3 linked regions of the Homo sapiens genome follow. The protein of the gene in region 2 purifies or fractionates together with the protein of the main gene of each other region. This does not show direct contact. Each region holds a gene or a part of one and is shown on either strand. Other genes may lie near its edges.

The links.
Region 1: the proteins of CRY1 (region 2) and FOXO1 purify together in Homo sapiens (affinity purification with western blotting; 2 studies listed by BioGRID). This does not show direct contact.
Region 3: the proteins of CRY1 (region 2) and HNRNPA3 purify together in Homo sapiens (affinity purification with mass spectrometry; 2 studies listed by BioGRID and IntAct, with this or other methods). This does not show direct contact.

What each region holds. Positions count from the first base shown.
Region 1 is NC_000013.11:40,555,010-40,558,641, forward strand, and holds the end of FOXO1 (forkhead box protein O1), read right to left. Parts: 3' UTR 658-3,632; downstream 1-657. UniProt on the Homo sapiens protein: Transcription factor that is the main target of insulin signaling and regulates metabolic homeostasis in response to oxidative stress.
Region 2 is NC_000012.12:107,002,879-107,006,635, forward strand, and holds part of CRY1 (cryptochrome-1), read right to left. Parts: intron 2,371-3,757; coding exon 2,228-2,370; intron 1-2,227.
Region 3 is NC_000002.12:177,215,637-177,219,393, reverse strand, and holds part of HNRNPA3 (heterogeneous nuclear ribonucleoprotein A3), read right to left. Parts: coding exon 3,733-3,757; intron 3,645-3,732; coding exon 3,498-3,644; intron 3,417-3,497; coding exon 3,206-3,416; intron 2,892-3,205; coding exon 2,802-2,891; intron 2,719-2,801; coding exon 2,623-2,718; intron 2,535-2,622; coding exon 2,454-2,534; intron 1,690-2,453; coding exon 1,549-1,689; intron 358-1,548; coding exon 235-357; intron 148-234; coding exon 95-147; 3' UTR 80-94; intron 1-79. UniProt on the Homo sapiens protein: Plays a role in cytoplasmic trafficking of RNA. Binds to the cis-acting response element, A2RE. May be involved in pre-mRNA splicing.

The sequences.
Region 1 (3,632 bases), on a different chromosome or scaffold from region 2:
GCTTCTGGCTATCACGTCTTTTAAAGAAAGGGTTTCCACTTCCAAAAGTGGGTAAATTTTAAAATACTCTGAAAGTGGGATGGACCCTCAGTGTCTACACAGATAAACAGAATAATCTTTTTCCTTGCTTCTCCAGCTCATTCACTTGTCTGGTCAGAAAGTCAGAAGTTAGGAGAAAGTGGGCTTCACAATGATTTTAAAATGCATCTTAACCATCTTAATCTAATCCTGGCTCATTCCTCAGACATCTTCTGAAAAGAGCAAACATAAACTTCCCACCTACAGCCACTTAAAGGAGGGCTGATCCTCCCCCTTCAGCAAGGTGTGCAGTAGTGACTGGAGGAGCACTTATGACCTTAGCCATGGGGTTCTGCCACTCCATCCACCGCATCTGCTCTGTGACCTCCTAGCCAGACCCTCCTAACTTGCCCTCAAGGTGTTTTTACCTTTAGCAGAGTCTGTTCTAACATAAGACTTAATATGCCTAGTAATTACTGAACCGGATGTACTTTCAGACATTCCAAAGATGAAGTATTCCAGGATTGTTATCAAGGATTGTACTTGTTCCCCATCTCAGGGGACTATAGTTTGGTCCCAGAGGGGCTGTTCCCCTTTTCCTCCAAAGGAAATACCAGATTTGAACCAATGACAACATTGTGGCTGACAAGACTTAACTCAAGTATTTAATAGCTTCACAAAAAATTCCTAATAAAGAGCTTATTCTGCATAATTAGAAAAGAAAGACACCAAGCCATTTAAACATAATTTATGTACATTTATGGCTTTATACAATTATAGCAAAGATTGTTCTTGTGTCTGTAAGTACATCAACATCAGGCACTTCTCAGAGTATCGGAACAAGAACGTGGAATCTGCACTGTTACTAAACTCGGGTAGCGAAATGCAGGAGGCATGACTACGTCCTGATGGGACTTACATGGCCACCCCTGGCCACACTGCCAGGCTGTGCCCACCTCAAGGAGAGGCCAACTGTAATGCCAGGTTGGTCTGTTCGCATAAACCACAATACATTTTTTTTAATGAATGATTATTCCCAAACTAAAACCAGAAAAGAAACTTCTCTTTTAAAATTAGTTATAAATTAAGAACTCTTAGGAGCTTGAATGTAAGAATTTTAAGTTGGGGCTGGGGTTATTGGTAGCATATATCCAGCAGTTGAACAAGTCCAATTTGTATATCGTTGGAGAATGATTTCCATTTTAAGCATCCTTATCCTCTTCTTGGGATGTTCCATTGATTTACTGCTCACTGGGATACATGTGCTCATTTAGACTTTGTCAGTTTGTCAAAGCAGAACTTTCCAAGTAATACATCTATTACCTAAATATATTCCATACGTCTATATTACGGAAACAATACATCTTTATATTTAAAATATCTGAATAGCTCTATAATACAATATGCTTTTAATAACAGTACAAACCAGAGAAAATAAATCAAACAAGGCTGCATAGGTGATATCATTTGCACATTTCACAAAGCAATCATGTACAATAACTGATATATACTCATTACTCCAGAAAGTCAGTATTCTTACAGGAAAAAAACTACCAGAGGCCACATAATGTTTGCTTTCCAGACAGACCAGATGCCTTTCCCTGGACTTCACTGTTCTCAGAGAGCTACCAAGGATTCATGACAGGATTTCAACACACAATGGGGGCTTGGGAGAGGTATAATTACCCAGACTCAGGAGGAAGATATATTTTCCTAAGAGCTACTCCATGAAGTAGTAAGATTTTAACAGTGATTTTGGCTGTAGTTGCCTCTTTAATGAACAAATGGGGGCTCTGAGGTTCCTTGTATTATGATGCAGTAATGGCACGGGAGGAAAGTGACAGTACGTAGTAATAGAAATTAGTACACAAGTACTTTGGCACCAAGTTCAGTTACATACCCGGGAGGCTGTGCTTAGAGGAACTTGGGTTTCTAAAACCAGCTATGTCTTGGACTGCCCCAAAATGAGGATGATAGAGTGGTGGCTGTTCAATGAATCTTCAAAAAAATGATCATCACAGTGGGAAGCTTACAATAGAGCTGGCTTACTGTAGGAAATCTTATCAGGAACACTTGTGTTCTTGTTAAACATTTAGGAAATACCAAGCCAATGAAGATGCAATTAACATACAAGACAAAGCAAGTGTGATGTGGGCTATATACAGAAAAATTAGATCCTTCTCAAGAACACAAGAGGAACAGTGCTGTGCACCTGTTCTCTTCATTGTGATGACTTTGGGCTTTCCACATGACTTGAAAATACTGATGGACTAAATAGGACACAAAGCCAATTAATTTGGTCTGTCAGTTACAGGTAATTGGAAAGTAATAAAACATAATGATAGGAATTACAGTTTAGGTTGCTACAGGCTAAAGAAATTTTCAAATTCTTAAGCCAAGGCTTTTAACATAATCTCAATGCACAACTTACAGCTGGTTTTCAAATAAATCTCCCCAATTTTTAAGTAAGTTCTATTCCATTTGCTACCCATCTGAACTTATGAACACAAATTCTACAAACCACTCAAGTCCCATTTTTAAATTCCCTCCTTCCACTTAAACTTCCACAGTGTGCTAAGTAATCTAATCTGCAGGGCAGAAGGGAGAATGAGATGAAGTATGAGTGTTGACATAATTCCTCAAGGCAGAACTACAAAACCAACCTCCACCTGGACTGAAACAAGAGCAAAGAATTATGAGGGGAAACTTTTGCTAAAGCTCAACTCAAAATGGTGAAGTGGATCAAAATCCCTCGTTTGACAAAGGACCATTGCTTTAGATGCAGATCTCCCTTTTCTGATCTACAAACATTATGAGGCCTCCCAGGACTACAGAGGTCTCTAGAGAAGACTTGATGCTATGCAGTACGCATAGTTCAGTAGAAGCAGATGAAATTTCTTTAAAATACATACATAAAAACATATTAAGTTATCCTAAATAAGAAACGCAAAGTGTCCATAACTATACATCACTTTCCTGCCCAACCAGGGCCTGAAACGTTGAATATGCAAGTACTAATTACAATGATTTAAGATTAGTCAGAAACATCACTAAGTAGCATCCCAAAGTGTACAAACCAGTTAAGCATGTATAAAATTAGTACTAATCCAGTTAGAATACAAAATGAAAATTATGAATGCTGCCCCAAATACCTGTGGTTCCACAAAATTTACAAGCTGACTATGTAACAAAGTAGACTCTAGTTTTAAGAAAACATTATTACAGTTCAATATCTATTCCAAAAATGTTCTTAAGTCCCAACAATAACATCAAAAATCATTTATCTGGAAATTAGAACCATTTAAATGTTTGTACAAATTTGCAAATAACAAAATAAACAAAAAAAAATAGAAAAGACCTGTACAAAGCTGGCATTTAATCTTTTTTTTTCCAAAAGTTTAACAAGTCCATTAATTTAGCAGATTGATAACAGGCTACTTGGTTCTCATGTGAATTCTGTGGCAACGTGAACAGGTCCAAGGCTGTTCAATGGAGATGCAGAATGGAGATTCAGTTCTTTGTGATCCGTCAGTTCCGCAGAAAACAGGTAGTACAAACAAAAGTTTAACTTATCAAGACATGAGGCCCATCACAGTATTACAAAAAGAGTATAA
Region 2 (3,757 bases):
CTGTCATCCATGTAAGACATGACTTGCTCCTCCTTGCCTTCCACCATGATTGTGAGGCCTTCTGAGCCGTGTGGAATTGTAAGTCCATTAAATCTTTCTTTTGTAAATTGCCCAGTCTCGGGTATGTCTTTATCAGCATCGTGAAAACAGACTAAAACAATTACCCTATTTCCTTCAGCAAATTTTATAAATTTTGATTCTATATTACTGTGGTGACAATTACTTCCTATTTTCTATTGTGCTAATGAAGGCATGAGAGATGTCAGCATATGTATCTATGTCACATACTTAGAACACATAAGCCCCCAAATTTCAAGTTATTTAAATTTAAGTATCTTTTTACTTCTGATCATTAATTAACTCAATCAATTATTAATTAAAAAAATAACTAGCTTTGCCAATGGTAGTTAAAGATTAAGTTTAGACACTCTTTTGGAATAACTACTCTTTTTCACTATGGCCATTTGCTTAGCATTTGGCCTTAATAAAAAATGACAGGTGAAATCCAACTCCATCATTTTATAGATGTGAAAACAGGCCTACCAGGAGAGTTAAGTAAACTAGTCAAGGTCATATAACTGATAAACGGCAAATCAAGGTTTTCTTAGTGTATTTTAGTGTATTTTTCATTATACAATACGTAGTGATGTATCAACTACAGATACATACAGAAAGTAATACAGAAAGCAATCACCATAAAAGATATCCTGTTTAAGTAAATTTTGTTTTGGTGTATTTTGAATTTATTCATAGGGTTGCAATGAATTTTGCTGAATGTAATGATGCTACAATAATACTACTGAGGACATTGTTAATTACACAACAGTAGCAAAATGAGAATCTTAGGACAAAACATTTTCTATATGTTACATTTTAATATGATAGATTACATATAGTAAATATTCACATTCAATCCAATAAACACTTGATTTTTTTTTTTTTTTTTGAGACAGAGTCTTGCTCTATTGCCCAGGCTGGAATGCAGTGGTGCTATCTTGGCTCACTGCAACGTCTGCCTCCCGGGTTCAAGTGATTCTCCTCCCTCAGCCTCCCAAGTAGCTGGATTACAGGCACCCGCCACTATGCCTGGCTAATTTTTGTATTTTTAGTAGAGATGAGGGTTTCACCATTTTGGCCAGGCTGGTCTTGAACTCCTGACCTCGTGATCCATCTGCCTCGGCCTCCCAAAGTGCTGGGATTACAGGTGTGAGCCATCGCGCCTAGCCTAAACAATTTTATGCATAACACTGAGTCTCCCACTTAGAAGCAACTGCTTTTATCCTGTGTTGCCCCCTCCTTGCTATGAGCTCCTTAAAGTTAAGCAAATTGGTGAGCTCGAAGGCAAGATTATTATTAAAAGATATATGAATTCTAGCTTAGTATCAAGACCTTTGTCTGAATCAAATCATGATTTTTTGATACATTTAAAATGTGAAATCAAATCAACTAGTTTGTCATGTTACAGAATTTGTTTTACTAACTTGATAAAATACATAAATTACTAAAAAAGTAAAATGATTTAAAAGGTAAATAAATTATAAGATTTCAGTACTTAAAAGGACAATGGTATGCCAAAAGTTTTAAAAAGTTAAGTTTTACAGACCTCTAAGACTCATAGCATATAACACTCCCTAAATTTAAGTTTGACCACAGAATTTCTGTGGGACAAAGCATCACCAAGGACTGGTGCTGGAAGAAATACACTTTGGGAAATATTCTATTATGCCATTGTTCAGAGGACTACAGCTATGCAATGTTATATTACATCCAATTTGCATCTGGATTTAAAATCCAGACAGACATAATAGATATACATGAAATAAGATAACATTAAACAAGCATACAAAATATGTCAAGGCAATTTATAACTATATATAACTATAAAATTGATAATGCTAAGAGCCCAGAAAGGCAAGACCACAGGAGGCTGAGTTAAGAGTAGTCAAGGAAAATTCTGTAATAGTCTTAATCCATAATAGTTTTGAAACTGAAATGCTGATACCTGTCATTGGGTCAATAGCAGCTAAATAAAATGCTAAGGATTTGACATATGTTCACTTAATTCTCCCATAACTCTGTGAAGTACATGTTATTTCTACTTTATAAACCTCAGTTAAAAACTTATCTATGTAGTTAATACCACCGAACTATATACTTAAAAATGGTTAAGATGGTAAATATTATGTTATACGCATTTTCCCACAGTAAAAAAAAAAAAAGGACTCACTTGTCTAGGTCATATAATGTATGTGAAATTCTTACAATGACTTCTACTCCAGCTTCAGTTGCCAGTTTCTTAATAGCTGCGTCTCGTTCCTTTCCAAAGGGCTCAGAATCATACTCAATTGAAAGTTTAGTAATGTTCCATTCCTAAAGTAAGAGAAAGGGGAACAATGTACACCAATTGTAATAGTTATTTTTTCTATTATAACGAAAAGTGAAAAAGCTGAAAATCTACATATCAAAGGATTATACATAAATCAAACTTTGAATATGCAGGAAAAAGTAAACAATTTATCAATTAAAAAATACATAAGTAATGAATGCATAACCCATTAGATTCTAGGCATTATGCTAGGCAACAATCTAGCAAAGCAATATGCTTAAAACCAGCTCTTATACTAAATGTGTTTGTAGAGCACTTTACTTTTTCAAATTACTCATACTTACATTATTTCATTTGAGCCTCAAAACAACACTCAGAGTTTGGCACTTTGGTTAGTATTTCCATTTTGGAGATAAGTTTATTTTTAAAACTTAGGGACCTGCCAGAGTTCACAGAAAGCCAGACCACCTGAATTTATGTCTGTTGAGTCTAAGAACTGGTCTTTAACTAACCTTTGATATTGATATGGTATAAGCTGCCTGGCTGAGGTCGTGTGTGTGTGTGTATGTAAATATTTTCTTTCTGATTACTAAAAAACGTTAACTGAAAAATTTGGAGATGGTAATAATAATAGCAGTTACTTATTATCAGGAGCTATGTTAATAAGTTCTGTACATCTCCTTATACTGATTTTAAATGAGGAAACTGTGACTTAAAGGAATTGATTTTTCTTAAGGAGAAAGTTTTTTTTTTATTCTAAGTCTATTCTGATTTATCTCATAAAGAAAAAATTCTACCATTATTTAACTGCCTATATGGTAACATACTATAATTCACCAAACACCTCCAGATTAGACAAGGGCTATTCCAATGGTGGGTTTAAAAAAATTGCTATTCTAGGCGGCGTGCGGTGGCTCATGCCTGTAATCCTAGCACTCTGGGAGGCTGGGGTGGGTGGATCACCTGAGGTCAGGAGTTCAAGACCAGCCTGGCCAGCATGGTGAAACCCCGTCTCTACTAAAAATAAAATCATTAGCTGGGTATGGTGGCACATGCTTGTAATTCCAGCTACTCGGGAGGCTGAGGAAGTAGAATCACTTGAACCCGGGAGGTGGAGGTTGCAGTGTGCCACTGCACTCCAGACTGAGCGACAGGAGCGAGGCTCCATCTCAAAAAAAAAAAATTGCTATTATAAACTTTACAGTATATATCTTTACCTTTATGCACACATCTTACAAATTATAGGGTATTTATCCAATTTTTTCCTAGAAATAATCCCTTGAAAAACAACTGATGGATCAAAGATAAGCACATTCAAAATTCTGATAGGCTGTCAAATTATGTACCAGAAAGACTGTACAAATTTATATTCCCATCAGCAGTGCACCTAAGGCTTGATCTCCACACACTTGCCAATAATATGTATTAGTA
Region 3 (3,757 bases), on a different chromosome or scaffold from region 2:
AGGATAAAAAAATTATTACACTCAGTGAACAGTTCCACATATTCTTTTATCATCATAATAAAAATTTAAAGATACCTACCCTTTTCTGCTGTTTTTAGAACCTTCTGCTACCATATCCACCACTTCCACCACCAGATCCATAACCACCTGAAAATATACATAGTATTTTAAAAGAAGTATGCACATTTTTTAAATTAAAAAGGCTCTAAAGAATTGATTTAAGAAAGTACTTACCACCATAGGGACTGCCCGAGCTTCTTCCACCAAAACTGCCCCCTTTCATGGGTCCATAATTTGATTGCTGTTGTCCACTATAATTTCCAAAATCATTATAGTTCCCACCACCACCATAGTTACCTGAAATCAGAAAGGTTTTATGTGTGGTTTACCTACACAATCATCATTTTCCCCTTTTAACGTATGTAACTATTATCTTTTGAGAATTATGGTAGCATGCTTATACACATCACTGTGGTAGCACCACTTGGGGTAACTGATGTCAGGATATTAAAAGACCATCAACATTTTGTTTATATTAAATGCTGTCCTCTAGGCGCATGTTCTCTCTACCATTAACACCATTAAAATTGCCAGTGTTCCATTCACTATGATTCTGAAGCAGTATAACATTTAAAACAATGAGAAGGCATTCTAACTTGTTAAAACTTCCACTCATCTGTCATTGACATGTTAATTAGGTCCAATAAAACAGTGCATTCCTAAGAAAGCTTTTAACAGTATTGTGGCTTAATGACCTACATACACTAGCTTGCTTAAACGCTTCAACTACCTGTGACATATTATATTAAGACCCAAAGTACTTTGTTAACCTGGGCCCTAGATGGCAACCTGCTCACTTCAACACGTCTGGAGTATTCAAACAATTTATTCCCGGTTGTCCAGTTTAAAAGTACCAAGGAGTTAAGTAAAATTTTGGCAATAAATAAACTCCCAATCTTTTACACGTAAAACATGTACTGAATACTGGTAAATGTCCATTTTTTACTACTCAACTAAAAATTCAGTACATTTGGCTGAGTGCAGTGGCTCATGCCTGTAATCCCAGTACTTTGGGAGGCAGAAGCGGGCAGATCACAAGGTCAGGAGATCGAGACCATCCTGGCTAACATGGTGAAACCCCATCTCTACTAAAAATGCAAAAAAATTAACCGGGCGTGCTGGCATACGCCTGTAGTCCCAGCTACTAGGGAGGCTGAGGCAGGAGAATCGCATGAACCCGGGAGGCGGAGATTGCAATGAGCTGAGATCACGCCACTGCACTCCAGCCTGGGCAACAGAGCAAGACTCCATCTCAAAAAAAAAAAAAAAAAAAAAAAAAAAGAAAAAAGAGAGCTGAGTACATTTGTACATTTTACTAAATAACCAGCAAAGTCAAGAAAATTTGGTTTGAACTACCAACCATTTTAGTATTTTTCTTATAGAACATAAAATTTGATCAAACGCTTTTAACACTTTCCAAATATGTGTCATGGGAACTGTTAGCAACACTGAATATTTAACATTTAAATAAAACAAGTGAATGCTTACCACCGCCAAAATTTCCTCCTTCATTGTAACCATCATATCCTCCACCTCCACCATATCCACCACCTTGGTTTCCATATCCTGGTCCACCACCACCATAGCCCCCTCTACTACTATAACCAGGACCACCGCCATAGTTGCCACCTAAAAAAACAACAAATAACAAGACCACACAAAAACTTAAGTGTATAGTCACGTTATTCAATTCTGGTGTGTGTGTAAGAGACTGGGTCTTGCTCTGTTGCCCGGGCTCAAGTACAGTGGTGCAACCACAGCAATGCAGCCTTGAACTCCTGGGCTCAAGCCATTCTCCCACCTCAGTCTCCTGAGTAGCTAGACTATGGGCATGTGCCACCATGTTCCCCTATTTTATTTTTCTAGATATACGGTCTCCTTATGTTGCTCAGACTAGTCTCAAAATCCTCACCTCAAGCAACCCCTCTGCCTCAGCCTCCTGAATAGCTAGAATTACTCAACTCTGGTTTTATATTACATTTAAGCCACTGGCAAATAAGCCAATGAATTGATTTAGCACTCTGAAGCCTGGTAATACCTAATAATAATAGAGTATCAAGTATCTGCACTAGTAAGAATGAAAAATAAATGTGTAACCCATCTTCTGATAGTAAAAAAGAAAATCAGTTTTCATTTTACAAAATTTCACTAAGAAAAATATAGTCTCAGACTTAATAGAACAATTCTAGCTCAACCCCTACTACTTGCTGAAAAAGAGCAGCTAATGTCTCTCCAGGGGAAAAAGGGTTCCTGTTCTTCCATGTACAGTTTGGAAATACACCTTAACCATTTAGCCACTGAAGTTTTAACTAAAATTAGAAAAGTGTAATAAATAATTTTCAATAAGTAAAGAAAGTTAAAATATCAAACATCAATGAAAATAAGCCACCTACCATCACCTCCAAATCCATTATATCCACCATCACCTCCTCCATAACTACCTCTGCTGCCACCACCTCCACCACCATAGCCTCCTGAGGAAAAACAAGAAATGAATTAAAATAATATATTCAACTTACCAAAATGTCAGGTATCCATGTACTTAGAAGATAAACAGCCTACCTCTTCCACCAAAGTTTCCACCACGGCCAAAATTACCTCCACCACCTCCAAAGTTCCCTCCGCGACCCATAAAATTGCCAGATCCACCTCCACGACCTTTAATACAGGCAAGGGAGATTTTTAAGAACCTTACAAACACCACTCATATCCACTGTATACATGTGTATGGTCCTACTCACCTCTCTGTGATCCAGCAGACTGCATCTCTTGTTTAGAAAGGGCCTTTTTCACTTCACAATTATGCCCATTAATAGTGTGGTATTTCTGAACTAAATTTTTTTTCAATCAAACAAAACAAAAAGTTATTTTATGTTTGGAAAAGCACATATATGAGATACCCTCTGTCATTATGTAACCCATTAAGACATAATCAGGTAGTGACTCTGGTAATGAAGGAGCATTCTGAGATGTTTATGTTTATTTCTTGATCTGGATACTGATTACACAGGCAGACACTATGAAAATTGACTATACACTATAAATGCCATTACACGCAACAGAAAATTACAATTTAGCAAATTTAGTTCAAAACAGAAAAACCAGTTCTACTTTCTCATTCAAGTTACCATAAATTGCTACTTACCAACAATTTTATCAACTGTATCATGATCATCAAAAGTTACAAAAGCAAATCCTCTCTTTTTTCCACTCTGCCTGTCTTCCATAACTTCTATGGTTTCAATCTTGCCATACTTTTCAAAGTAGTCTCTCAAATTATATTCTTCTGTATCTTCTTTAATACCACCAACAAAAATTTTCTTCACTGTTAGATGGGCACCAGGCTTTACAGAATCCTACAAATAAAGTAATATATTAAGTCAAGAAACAAACTTTCACAACAATTTCACATATTACACAATGTATTATTAAAATACCTCTCTAGAAACAGCTCTCTTTGGTTCCACTACACGCCCATCAACCTTGTGTGGTCGAGCACACATTGCTGCATCCACCTCTTCAACACAAGAATAAGTCACAAAACCAAAGCCCCTGGAACGTTTTGTTTGGGGGTCTCTCATTACCTACAAAATAAAAAGTTTTATAACGTTGAAAACACCTCCACCGGTTCTCTACACCCCTTAGAACCCTTCTGTTCTCTTAGTAACTTACCACACAATCTGTGAGTGTGCCCCAT